3 linked regions of the Homo sapiens genome follow. The protein of the gene in region 2 purifies or fractionates together with the protein of the main gene of each other region. This does not show direct contact. Each region holds a gene or a part of one and is shown on either strand. Other genes may lie near its edges.

Region 1 (3,651 bases), on a different chromosome or scaffold from region 2:
AGGTGGTCAGCAGAGGTCTCTTTAAGGAGGTAACATACCAAGGCCAGGTGCAGTGGCTCACTCCTGTAATCCCAGCACTTTGGGAGGCCAAGGTAGGCGGATCACCTGAGGTCTGGAGTTAGAGACCAGCCAGGCCAACATGGTGAAACCCTGTCTCTACTAAAAATACAAAAATAGCTGGGCATGGTGGTGGGCACCTGTAATCCCAGGTTGAGGCAGGAGAATCGCTTGAACCCTGGAGGTGGAGGTTGTATAGTGAGCCGAGATCGTGCCACTGCACTCCAGCCTGGGCGCAGAGCAAGACTCCGTCTCAAAAACAAAAAACAAAACAAATAAAAGGTAGAAACCAAAATTTAGAGAAGTCAGGGGTCTCACCCCAAGTCATAGAGTTATTTAAATAGCAGGGTTGGGATTCAGAACTAGCTTTCAGGCCACTGAATTTCAGAGTCCTGGCGCTTTGCCACTAACCCATCACCGTCTATCCCAAGAGGCTCCCTGAATTACTCTAACATCTTACATTTTCCAGTTTTTACGCTTTCCTTCATTTATTTATTCATGAGTTCAACAACTACTTATTTCAACTTTCAGATGACCCCAAGAGATAAGAGACCCCTAAAAGAGAAAGAGAAGGAGGGAGGGACCTGAGGCCTGCCCAGAGTTACCCAAGTAGGGAGGCTGGGCTGGGACTCAGATTTTTTTATCCTTCATCTTCCAGCCACTGTTCAGGGAACAGGCAGGGGCCTATCCCCACTCTGGGAAGAAAGGAGGGGAGTGGGAGGGAAGGCACAATGGCCCACTTAGTCTTTGGCTCCTTTGCTGTGAGTCCCTACACCTGGTTCCTGTTGTGCCCAGAGGCATGGGTCACACAGCAGACCCATGGTAACCTAGGTTGGTGACCTAGGTCACCAACAGAGCTGGTTAGCAGCTGCCAGGCCTCACCCTGGCACATGTGAGCCCAGCTGGGGGTCAGGGGCCTGGTGCTGCTAGGAGAGTCTTACCCTTCCCCCAAGTCCATGCCCAGATATGTCATCTGGCAGACTTCCCAGCCTAGGGGCTGCCACTTGGCCAAGCGAGTCTTGGAGGTTCCAGCAGAAATAATAGCAGCCGTAAGATTTCAGAATGTGACAAGCCTCACAAATGAGGGAACTCGTGGCTCCTAGGCCAGGGGAGAGCTTCCAACCCAGCCAATTTGGGAGAAATGATGAGCAAGGCCTGAGGGAGTGAGACTGCGAGAGAGGAAGCCTGGCACGCGCAGTTGCACATCACTTATTCCTGCCAGACTCTTTCTTCCCTATCTGTAAGATGGGAGGTTGGGCTCGCTCTGTATGTTATTGAGCTGGTTGTCTCTTTGACATCTATAAGAAAAGTTTCTTCAAGATCCAAGTATATACAATTCGGTGAAGCAGAGTGTGCTGACCCAGTAAGAAGTTGTGTGAGAGAAGGGATGTCTTAACAGCCATCTCGCTGAAACGGCCATGCAGGCACCCACCAGCTTAGGGTATTGCGGCTGCTGGGAGTTGGCCTCTGTGATTCAAGCATCCCTTTGACCCAAGGCCCCCTGCCCAGGCCCCAAGTGTAGACATGGCCGCCTCACCTTTCCCTGCCTGTCTTCCCCTGTCCTGCCTTTGTGCCCCCTCTGCCTGCTCCACTTGTGTTAAAGGGTGGCTGGTGAGGGAGGGCAGGAGCTGCAGGAGCTCCTGGGCGCTTTAAACTGCTTAGCATGCATTTCACAGCCTCTCTGGGGCCAGCTGTTCCTTTCTCTGCTCTCAGGGCCTGTTTGCTGATCCCCTCTCCACCTCCCTCCTCCCCACACCCCTCCCAGTCCCTGTGCAAAATTGCTTTTGAAAAGATCCACTTTCTGCTTAATTAAACAATGAGGAGGTCCCCTCGCACATCTGTAAACCTCCTTCTGAGGCCAGTTTAGCCCACAAACTGCTCCATTCTTACCCCCATTCACTTGTAAATGGCCCCTCTGATGTTCCCTCCACCCCCTCTCCTCTGTTACTCCCCCCTTGCCAGCTCTTTCTTTTCCCTTTTCAACTGAGGCCTGGGGTGGGCTCTCCGAAGAGCCGTCTTGGAGCCTGGTGGACTTGGTGGGGACAGAGGCAGTTTAACCTGTGGAAGAGAAGACTTAGGGGATCCTTTCTTCCAAATCTGAAGGGCCATCCTGGGGAAGAGGGGGTGCATTTGTTGGCATGGTCCCCGTGGACCATTCAGGCCCAGTGGGTGGGAATGACAGGAAGACAGATTTCTGCTTGGGAGAAAAGAGCTCTTAACAATCAGAGCCGCTCCACAGAGGAGCTGACCTCCTGTCCCTGGAGGTGTTCAAAGAGAGGCTGGATGAGGGTCTGTTACGCCTGCGAGTCAATATCAGATACGACTTTGAGGTTGTTCCGTTTCAGTCCCACGAGGCTGAGGCTGACACCCTTTGGGGCCCTCCCACAGTGGGCAGTCAGTGTCCCCCAGAATAGGACAAGTCCACCGGGGCGAGGGATTCTGGTGGAGCTTGCGTCGGTGCTCTCCACAGTGGGTATCCTCCCTTTGGCAGCAGCCTTTAGAAGGTACTGGAGCCCAGAGGATGAGGAATCTGAAGTCACTGTGGGCTTACAGCTCAGAGCAGCCATCTGTTGAGCGTGTCCTGTGTGTGTGACACTGCCAGGCCTGCCTTGGGCATTGTGCCTTACGTAATCCTCAGCAGCTCTTGGTGTTTGGATTATTATCCCTGCTTGTCAGAGGATGACACTGAGACAGCAAGATGAAGTGACTTCCTAGCTAAGGCCATCGAGCACACAGCCGAGGTCCTCTGGCTGTAGACTCAGAACTCAACCACTCCAGCATAGAGCAGCAGCTCTCATTGCCTGCTCTGCCCCCGATGGGCAGGCCAGGTGCCAAGGTATCCTGCACTGGAAACCTTGTATTAAGTGCCCATCTCCTTCCTCTGGTGCTGTGTGCCCGGGGGCAGCCTGGCCGCCAGCACCTACAGACTCAGAGTGTCATTCCTACCACCTGGGTTGTACTGGGAGCATTGGCCAACCCCAACATCTTGTGGGTTCAAACATCTAACACAGAAGGAAGGTCAGTATCTAGGACCCCTCACTACTCTCGCAGTCCCCTCATTCCCTTTCCAGCTTCTGATGGGAAGATACGGGATGCCACAGAAAACCCCAGCCGGTCCCAGCACTATCTGATTAATGGTTGGCTCTACCTTGCCCTCTAAAGCTGAGGTGCCAGGCCACTGGGCAGAGCGTGCAGAAACCCAGAGAGCGCGAGGGGTATAGGTTCTTCCTCTGGATCCTGGAGTAATTACAGCATTGATATGCAGGGCACAGTGCTGAGAGCTTTGTATATATCGTCTTATTTGATCCCCCACAATGACCCTATGAGACAATGTTAACATCCCCATTTTACAAAAAAAGGAAGCCGAGGCTTCCTATTACCTAAGGTAATAGAACTAGTAAGTGATGGAGTCCAGCTCAAAACCAGGCCTGTCTGACTCCAGGGTCCATACTCTTAGTCTCTTTCTTCCTCCCTCCTTCCCTCCCTACCTCCCCAGTTGTCCACTCAAGTAATGGTAATGGTAGTGCCATACATTTGAGCTGGATCGTGATTCAAGTGTTGAGTCAGAGACACATGGAAGCACAGGCCTGGGCA
Region 2 (3,651 bases):
AACTCCTGACACTGTGATCCGCCCGCCTCGGCCTCCCAAAGTGCTGAGATTACAGGTGTGAGCCACCACACTTGGCACTTTGCCCTTTCTTTAACTCCCTGTCCTTCCTTTCTCAGGCTTCCCTCTGCCCCACACCAGTCTTTCCAGATCCTAAATGGATGAACCCCTCATGCCTCATCCTTCACATCTCTGGGAAGTCTTCCCTGATTTTGCAGATGAAGACAGCGAGCTTTTTCTTTTCTCTTAATTTAGAGATAGGGTCTCACCATGTTGCCCAGGCTGGACTCCAACTCCTGGGCTCAAGCAATCCTCCTGCCTCAGCCTCCCAAGTAGCTGGGATTACAGGTATGAGCCACCACACCCAGCTTTCAGCACACATTCTATGCTCTATTCCTTATCTTCCCCACTTAAGGCGCTCATGCTGATGGTGATTGATTGATGATTTGCATGACTGTCCATTTCAGTCCTATCTCCTTTACTAGACAATAAATTCCACCTTCTTCACTACTGTGTCTCAGAGTCCAGCACTGTGCCTGGCACTTAGTATGTGCTTAATAAAGTGCTTGTTGAAGGAATGATGAGTGAATGAATGAATGAACCCCAAATTCAGGACAGGAACATCCAGAGAAGGGAAATGGTAGGAACTGTCTGTGCCAGTGTGACTCAGGCACCCATCTCAGAAATGTTGATTTCTTTCTTTTTTTTTGAGATGGAGTCTCACTCTGTAGCCCAGGCTGGAGTGCAGTGGCGTGATCTTGGCTCACTGCAACCTCCGCCTCCTGGGTTCAAGCAATTGAGAGACGGGGTTTCACTGTGTTGGCCAGGCTGGTCAGGGATGTTGATTTCTCATCCCACCACAATGGGAGCAGGGACTGCGGCCAGGGGGGGCACTCACCAGTGGGTGGGGACTCTTTGCTTGTGGCACAGACTGGTGGCGGCTCATGCACCAGGAGAGGGGAACTGAAGTTGCGGCGGAAGGAGGTGGACTATGGCAAGAGAGGGCAGAGAGGTTTTGAGGAGGTCATGGCCTATGGAGAACTTGGTCCTTCCCAAGCCCAGGGCCCACCCCACAGGAAGGAGCAGCCCTGAGGGATACTCATTCTCCCATGTGACAGTACTGGCAGCACTCAGCTGGCCATCTCTGCCTGGGTCCCCGCTCACCGTCTTGCCTGGGCATTGCTGGTGGGAGATCTCCTCAGAGCACCAGAGGTGGACGCTGACTTTGCACATCTTACATCGCAAGCCCTGTTTGGAGTTTCCTAGGAAGAATTTGGGTTCAGCAATTGAGGACACCCCCGTGGGCAACAGGCAAAGGAGGGGCACATTAGGGGATGAGGAGAGCAGGGGTTGGGCATTCTCATGCCAGCCTTGAGGCCCAGCACCTACCCCTCACACAGTCAGGGTATGAGGGAGCACGGAAGCCAGAGTCGTTAGTAAACATGGCAGTGACACTGAGGCAGTGACACTGAGTATACCCCCACCCTTGGTGGTGCTCCTCTCTCTGCCTTGGGTAAGAGGCACAGTTGGGGGTGGGTGCAATGGCTCACATCTGTAATCCCAGCACTTTGGGAGGCTGAGGTGGATGGATTGCTTGAGCCCAGGGTTTGACCAGCCTGAGCAACATGGCAAAACCCCATCTCTACAAAAAATATTTTAAAATTAGCTGGGCATGGTAGTGTGTGCCTGCAGTCCCAGCTACTACAGAGGCTGAGGCAGGAGGATCCCTTGAGCCAGGGAAGTGGAGGTTGCAGTGAACCAAGATTGCATCACTGCACTCCAGCCTGGGAGACAGAGCAAGACTCTGTCTCAAAAAAAAAAAGAGGCACAGAGGCACAATTAGTATTGGGGCTCCTGAACAGCAAGAGCCCAATAATATTGGGCGCAACATGAGCCCACTCCCCAGTACCCACGCTGGCCCCTCCCCGTGGCCGCCTCAGTGCCCAGGCACCTACCTACGATGAGCTGGTGGCACAGCTCACAAGGGCTAGCTCGCTTGAAGACATGTTCCTGGAAGCTGTGCAGCCTCACTGGTTTGAGCGCTGCCAGGGGGCGTGGGACTGGGCATGGGGAGGGGGATGGGGTAGCCAGGCCCCTGTCCGAGGCTGTGGGTGGTGGGGAGGGAGGGGGCAGTGGGGTTGGGGGCGTCAGCAGCACCTCGGTGGGGCACTTGAGCTCAGAGCCCGAGCGAAGGAAGAAGTTCTCCAAGCTCTTACTTCGGAGGATGGTCTTGAGGGAGAGGGAGCGCTTGAATCGCTGGAGCTGGGAGAAAAAGAGGGAGCTGTGAGTGGGAGCCTAGAGGGGGCTGGCCAGGGCGGGCTTCCCTTCAGGGTGTCTCTGGCGGTAGGGGCGGCAGCAGCAGCAGCAGCAGCAGCGTGGGGGCTGAGGGCCAGAGCGAAATGAAACAGCAACAGAGAGGCTCCCCAGGTCCCGACGACACTTCGCAATCTCAGGTGCCACAAAAGCCAGGTGGTTGACCTCCATGGAGAAAGGAGTTCTGGCCAGGTGGGCAGCAATCAAGAGCCGTGGGGACTGTGGCAAACTGGATGGCCAGGGAGTAGCTGCAGGTCTCCTCAAGCCAATTGAGGCTGTTGCCAGGTTTTCTAGTTTTTCAAAAGAAATCTAGACTTTTATGTGAAATCGGATAGAAACAAGTTTAAGTGGTTTAATTCCATTTTTCTTTGAAGAAATGGTAGTATACTATATTTCCTGTGCCTTGCTTTTTTTCATAAACAGTAAATCTTGGAAATCATTCCATACCCATACATAAATAGATTCATCATTCTTTTTTATGGCTACAAAGTATTTTGTTGTATGGGTGTACCATTTACTCAAGTTTAGAAAAAAAAAAATAGGCACGGTATGGTGGCTCCTGCCTATAATCTCAGCACTCTGAGAGGCTGAGGCGGGAGGGAATCGCTTGAGCCAAGCAGTTGGAGACCAGCCTGGGCAACGTAGTATCCACCTGTGTTCTCGAACAGGCTGGTGGGGGGTGAGGAGTGGTCGTCCTGGACCCTCATCCTTGGGACTGATTCTCCCCGACAGAAAGTCTCTCTAGCCCTCCCCTCCCTCCCATTGACTCGTCACCTCACAGCCCTTAGTTCAGGCCCTGATGCCCCAGTCTGCTTCAAGGCCACAGCCTCCCCTCCAGCCCCCTGCTTCCACCTGTCCTCCATACAGCTGTTGCGGGGGTGATGCCTGATCCTGCTAAAAACTCTTCCTAGCTCCTCGGGACACCGTCCAAGGCTCTCGCCCCAGCCACGAGACTCTCCTTGCAACTTGGCCAAACCTGTCCTTCCAACCTGTGCCTTTGCAGCCCAGAAACTCATTTCTCAATTCATTGAGAATTGAGAATCCTCAATTCTCAAACTCATCCATGCTTTTATGCCTCTGAGCTTTTGACATGTTTGTCCTCTTCTCTGCCTCACTCAGTTCATACCCTCTTTATCCTGCCAATATGCTTCCACTGGTCCTTCCTCCTCCAGGAACTCTCTTCTGCAGGAATTCTGTCTCATGACCCACTCCCTCCTCTGGTGTCCACTGCATCCAGCCCAACTTCCACCACAGCTCCACTCGGGTGATGCTTGTTATTTATTTCTCACTCCCCCAGGAGATTGTGAGCCCCTTGGGGACGGACACAGTTGCTGGCTTCAA
Region 3 (3,651 bases), on a different chromosome or scaffold from region 2:
TATTTGGGAGGCTCAAGTGGGAGGATCGCTTGAGCCCAGGAGGGGGAGGCTGCAGTGGGCTGTGACTGCACCATTGCTTTCCATCCTGTGCCACAGAGTGAGACCCTATTTCAGACGAGGAGGGAAATAAAGCTGCCAGGCTGACTTTTCTTTCAAAGGCAGGGACATGAAAACGCCAAGGGCAGCCCAGGTGATGGGCGAGATGACTGCCCTGCACCCCCAGCCACCCTCCAGCTCCGATCTGCTGCGACCCCAGGGGCTCCGAGTGTCACAGTGCCCCAGAGGATCCCGAAGATCGTCCAGAACAACTCCATGAAGTAACCCTGCTGCGCTTTAGGTGTGAAGATAACACAGAAGAGCTCCCGGGCGCAGCACTGTGCGACAGGCAACAGAAATGTCCCGTTTGGTGTTCACGATGGTGGCCGCGGCCACAGGAGGATCCAGAACACTTGAGCTGTGGCTCCTGCTACTTAGGAAATGCCTCAACTTTATTTAATATTTACTAATTAAAATGTACATAGTCACAAGACAACACTGTAAATGAGGCCGCTTTACAGAAGTGAGTTCTGTGCCACCATCAGCTACAACACAGCAAGGTCAGACTTCAATGATTCCTGTATAACGACGGCACTGACGTCGCTCTAGTTCTGTGGTTCAGAGTCACAGGTCGTGACTGTTGAAGATTCACTGCTTCTTAGTTTAATGTATGTCAATCATTTTCATTTTCTATCATTCCAGGGAGTTTGTTTTATAAATGAAGTGTCTTGCGGGCTAATGGTTCTATTATGACCTTACACACACAAACTCACACAGACACACACTCACACACACACACACACAGTTTAAACTGTATATCTGCTTTAATTTGTATTTTAGCAGATTCGAATCTCTAGTTATTAGCAAATTTCTGTTTTTTTAAAAAAATAAATAGAGACAGAGTCTCACTATGTTGCTCAAGCTGCCTTCGAACTCCTGGGTTTCAGCAATCCACCCACGTTGGCCTCCCTAAGTGCTGGGATTATAGTGTGAGCCGCCACGCCCGGCCGCTGGGATTGCAGGCCTGAGCTCCCGTGCCCGGCCATCGTTGATGTTTTTATGAATCACTTTTAGATTTTGTAGATTAACCTCTTCCATCATGCTCTTTCCATTCAGTGCATCTGTGCTTTGGAAGCACTTTGCATCGTGGTGTCTGATATGCACCGTGTGAAGTGCTTTGCGTGTGCGTCCTGGTGTCTGATATACACCGTGTGAAGCGCTCTGCGTCCTGGTGTCTCATATGCACCGTGTGAAGCGCTCTGCGTCCTGGTGTCTGATATGCACCGTGTGAAGCTCTCTGCATGCTGGTGTCTGATGTGCACCGTGTGAAGCGCTTTGCGTTTGCGTCCTGGTGTCTGATATACACCATGTGAAGCGCTCTGCGTCCTGGTGTCTGATATACACCGTGTGAAGCGCTCTGCATCCTGGTGTCTGATACGCACCGTGTGAAGCGCTCTGCGTCCTGGTGTCTGATACGCACCGTGTGAAGTGCTCTGCATCCTGGTGTCTGATACGCACCGTGTGAAGCGCTCTGCATCCTGGTGTCTGATACGCACCGTGTGAAGCTCTCTGCGTCCTGGTGTCTGATACGCACCGTGTGAAGCTCTCTGCGTCCTGGTGTCTGATACGCACTGTGAAGCGCTCTGCGTGCTGGTGTCTGATACGCACCGTGTGAAGCTCTCTGCGTCCTGGTGTCTGATATGCACCGTGTGAAGCTCTCTGCGTGCTGGTGTCTGACATGCACCGTGTGAAGCTCTCTGAGTGCTGGTGTCTGATACGCACCGTGTGAAGCTCTCTGCATGCTGGTGTCTGATATGCACCGTGTGAAGCACTGCGCGTCCTGGCGTCTGATACGCACCGTGTGAAGCTCTCTGCGTCCTGGTGTCTGATACGCACCGTGAAGCGCTCTGCGTGCTGGTGTCTGATACGCACCGTGTGAAGCTCTCTGCGTCCTGGTGTCTGATATGCACCGTGTGAAGCTCTCTGCGTCCTGGTGTCTGATATGCACCATGTGAAGCACTGCGCGTCCTGGTGTCTGATATGCACCGTGTGAAGCTCTCTGCGTCCTGGTGTCTGACGTGCACCATGTGAAGCCCTCTGCGTGCTGGTGTCTGATATGCACCGTGTGAAGCGCTCTGCATCCTGGTGTCTGAAATGCACCGTGTGAAGCGCTCTGCATCCTGGTGTCTGATATGCACCGTGTGAAGCTCTCTGCGTCCTGGTGTCTGAAATACACTGTGTGAAGCGCTCTGCGTCCTGGTGTCTGATATGCACTGTGTGAAGCGCTCTGCGTCCTGGTGTCTGATATGCACCGTGAAGCGCTCTGCATGCTGGTGTCTGATACGCACCGTGTGAAGCTCTCTGCGTCCTGGTGTCTGATATGCACCGTGTGAAGCACTGCGCGTCCTGGTGTCTGATATGCACCGTGTGAAGCTCTCTGCGTGCTGGTGTCTGATATGCACCGTGTGAAGCTCTCTGCGTCCTGGTGTCTGATATGCACCGTGTGAAGCACTGCGCGTCCTGGTGTCTGATATGCACCGTGTGAAGCTCTCTGCGTCCTGGTGTCTGACGTGCACCGTGTGAAGCTCTCTGCGTCCTGGTGTCTGATATGCACCGTGTGAAGCGCTCTGCGTCCTGGTGTCTGACAGGCACCGTGTGAAGCTCTCTGCGTCCTGGTGTCTGATATGCACCGTGTGAAGCTCTCTGCGTGCTGGTGTCTGATATACCCCGTGTGAAGCACTGCGCGTCCTGGTGTCTGATATGCACCGTGTGAAGCTCTCTGCGTGCTGGTGCCTGATATGCACCGTGTGAAGCGCTCTGCATCCTGGTGTCTGAAATGCACCGTGTGAAGCACTCTGCATCCTGGTGTCTGAAATGCACCGTGTGAAGCTCTCTGCGTCCTGGTGTCTGAAATACACTGTGTGAAGCGCTCTGCGTCCTGGTGTCTGATATGCACTGTGTGAAGCGCTCTGCGTCCTGGTGTCTGATACGCACCGTGCAAGGCGCTTCGTGCCCTGGTGTCTGATATACACCAGTATTCTGATGTGCACTCGTCTTTTTCCTGAAAATATACCAAATCTAAAATATCAGGCTCAGCCAATGGAGTTCAGCTATTATGAGTTTTGAGAAAACGGCACAGAATGAAACTATATTAGATTTTGGATAATGCAAACACAAGCAGAAACAGCAATACTGCTCAAAGCGATGCCATTATTTTTCATGTACCCTCCCCGACACACAACCCATTTAACATTAACCTTCCCAGCACTCTAGTGGATCACGAGGTCAGGAGTTCGAGACCAGCCTGGTCAATACGGTGAAACCGCATCTCCACTAAAAAAAAAAAAAATACGAAAATTAGCCAGGCGTGGTGGCGGGCGCCTGTAGTCCCAGCTACTCAGGAGGCTGAGGCAGAAGAATCGCTTGAACCCAGGAGGTGGAGGTTGCAGTGAGCCAAGATTGCGCCACTGCACTCCAGCTTGGGTAACAAAGAGAGGTTCCGTCTCAAAAAATACTAACCTAAGGGAAAGTACCAGACCTTTACGTTAAAAACACCAAGAGACGAGAAACAGATGTGCGCATCCCGTCAGACCCCGGCCATGGGGGGCCCCTCCC

The links.
Region 1: the proteins of STAC2 (region 2) and URM1 purify together in Homo sapiens (affinity purification with mass spectrometry; one large-scale study listed by BioGRID and IntAct). This does not show direct contact.
Region 3: the proteins of STAC2 (region 2) and ANKLE2 purify together in Homo sapiens (affinity purification with mass spectrometry; one large-scale study listed by BioGRID and IntAct). This does not show direct contact.

What each region holds. Positions count from the first base shown.
Region 1 is NC_000009.12:128,381,374-128,385,024, forward strand, and holds part of URM1 (ubiquitin-related modifier 1), read left to right. Parts: intron 1-3,651. UniProt on the Homo sapiens protein: Acts as a sulfur carrier required for 2-thiolation of mcm(5)S(2)U at tRNA wobble positions of cytosolic tRNA(Lys), tRNA(Glu) and tRNA(Gln). Serves as sulfur donor in tRNA 2-thiolation reaction by being thiocarboxylated (-COSH) at its C-terminus by MOCS3.
Region 2 is NC_000017.11:39,215,915-39,219,565, forward strand, and holds part of STAC2 (SH3 and cysteine-rich domain-containing protein 2), read right to left. Parts: intron 2,260-3,651; coding exon 1,953-2,259; intron 1,260-1,952; coding exon 1,162-1,259; intron 987-1,161; coding exon 896-986; intron 1-895. UniProt on the Homo sapiens protein: Plays a redundant role in promoting the expression of calcium channel CACNA1S at the cell membrane, and thereby contributes to increased channel activity. Slows down the inactivation rate of the calcium channel CACNA1C.
Region 3 is NC_000012.12:132,730,703-132,734,353, forward strand, and holds part of ANKLE2 (ankyrin repeat and LEM domain-containing protein 2), read right to left. Parts: intron 3,370-3,651; coding exon of another isoform or gene 3,314-3,369; exon of another isoform or gene 3,157-3,313; intron 1-3,156. UniProt on the Homo sapiens protein: Involved in mitotic nuclear envelope reassembly by promoting dephosphorylation of BAF/BANF1 during mitotic exit.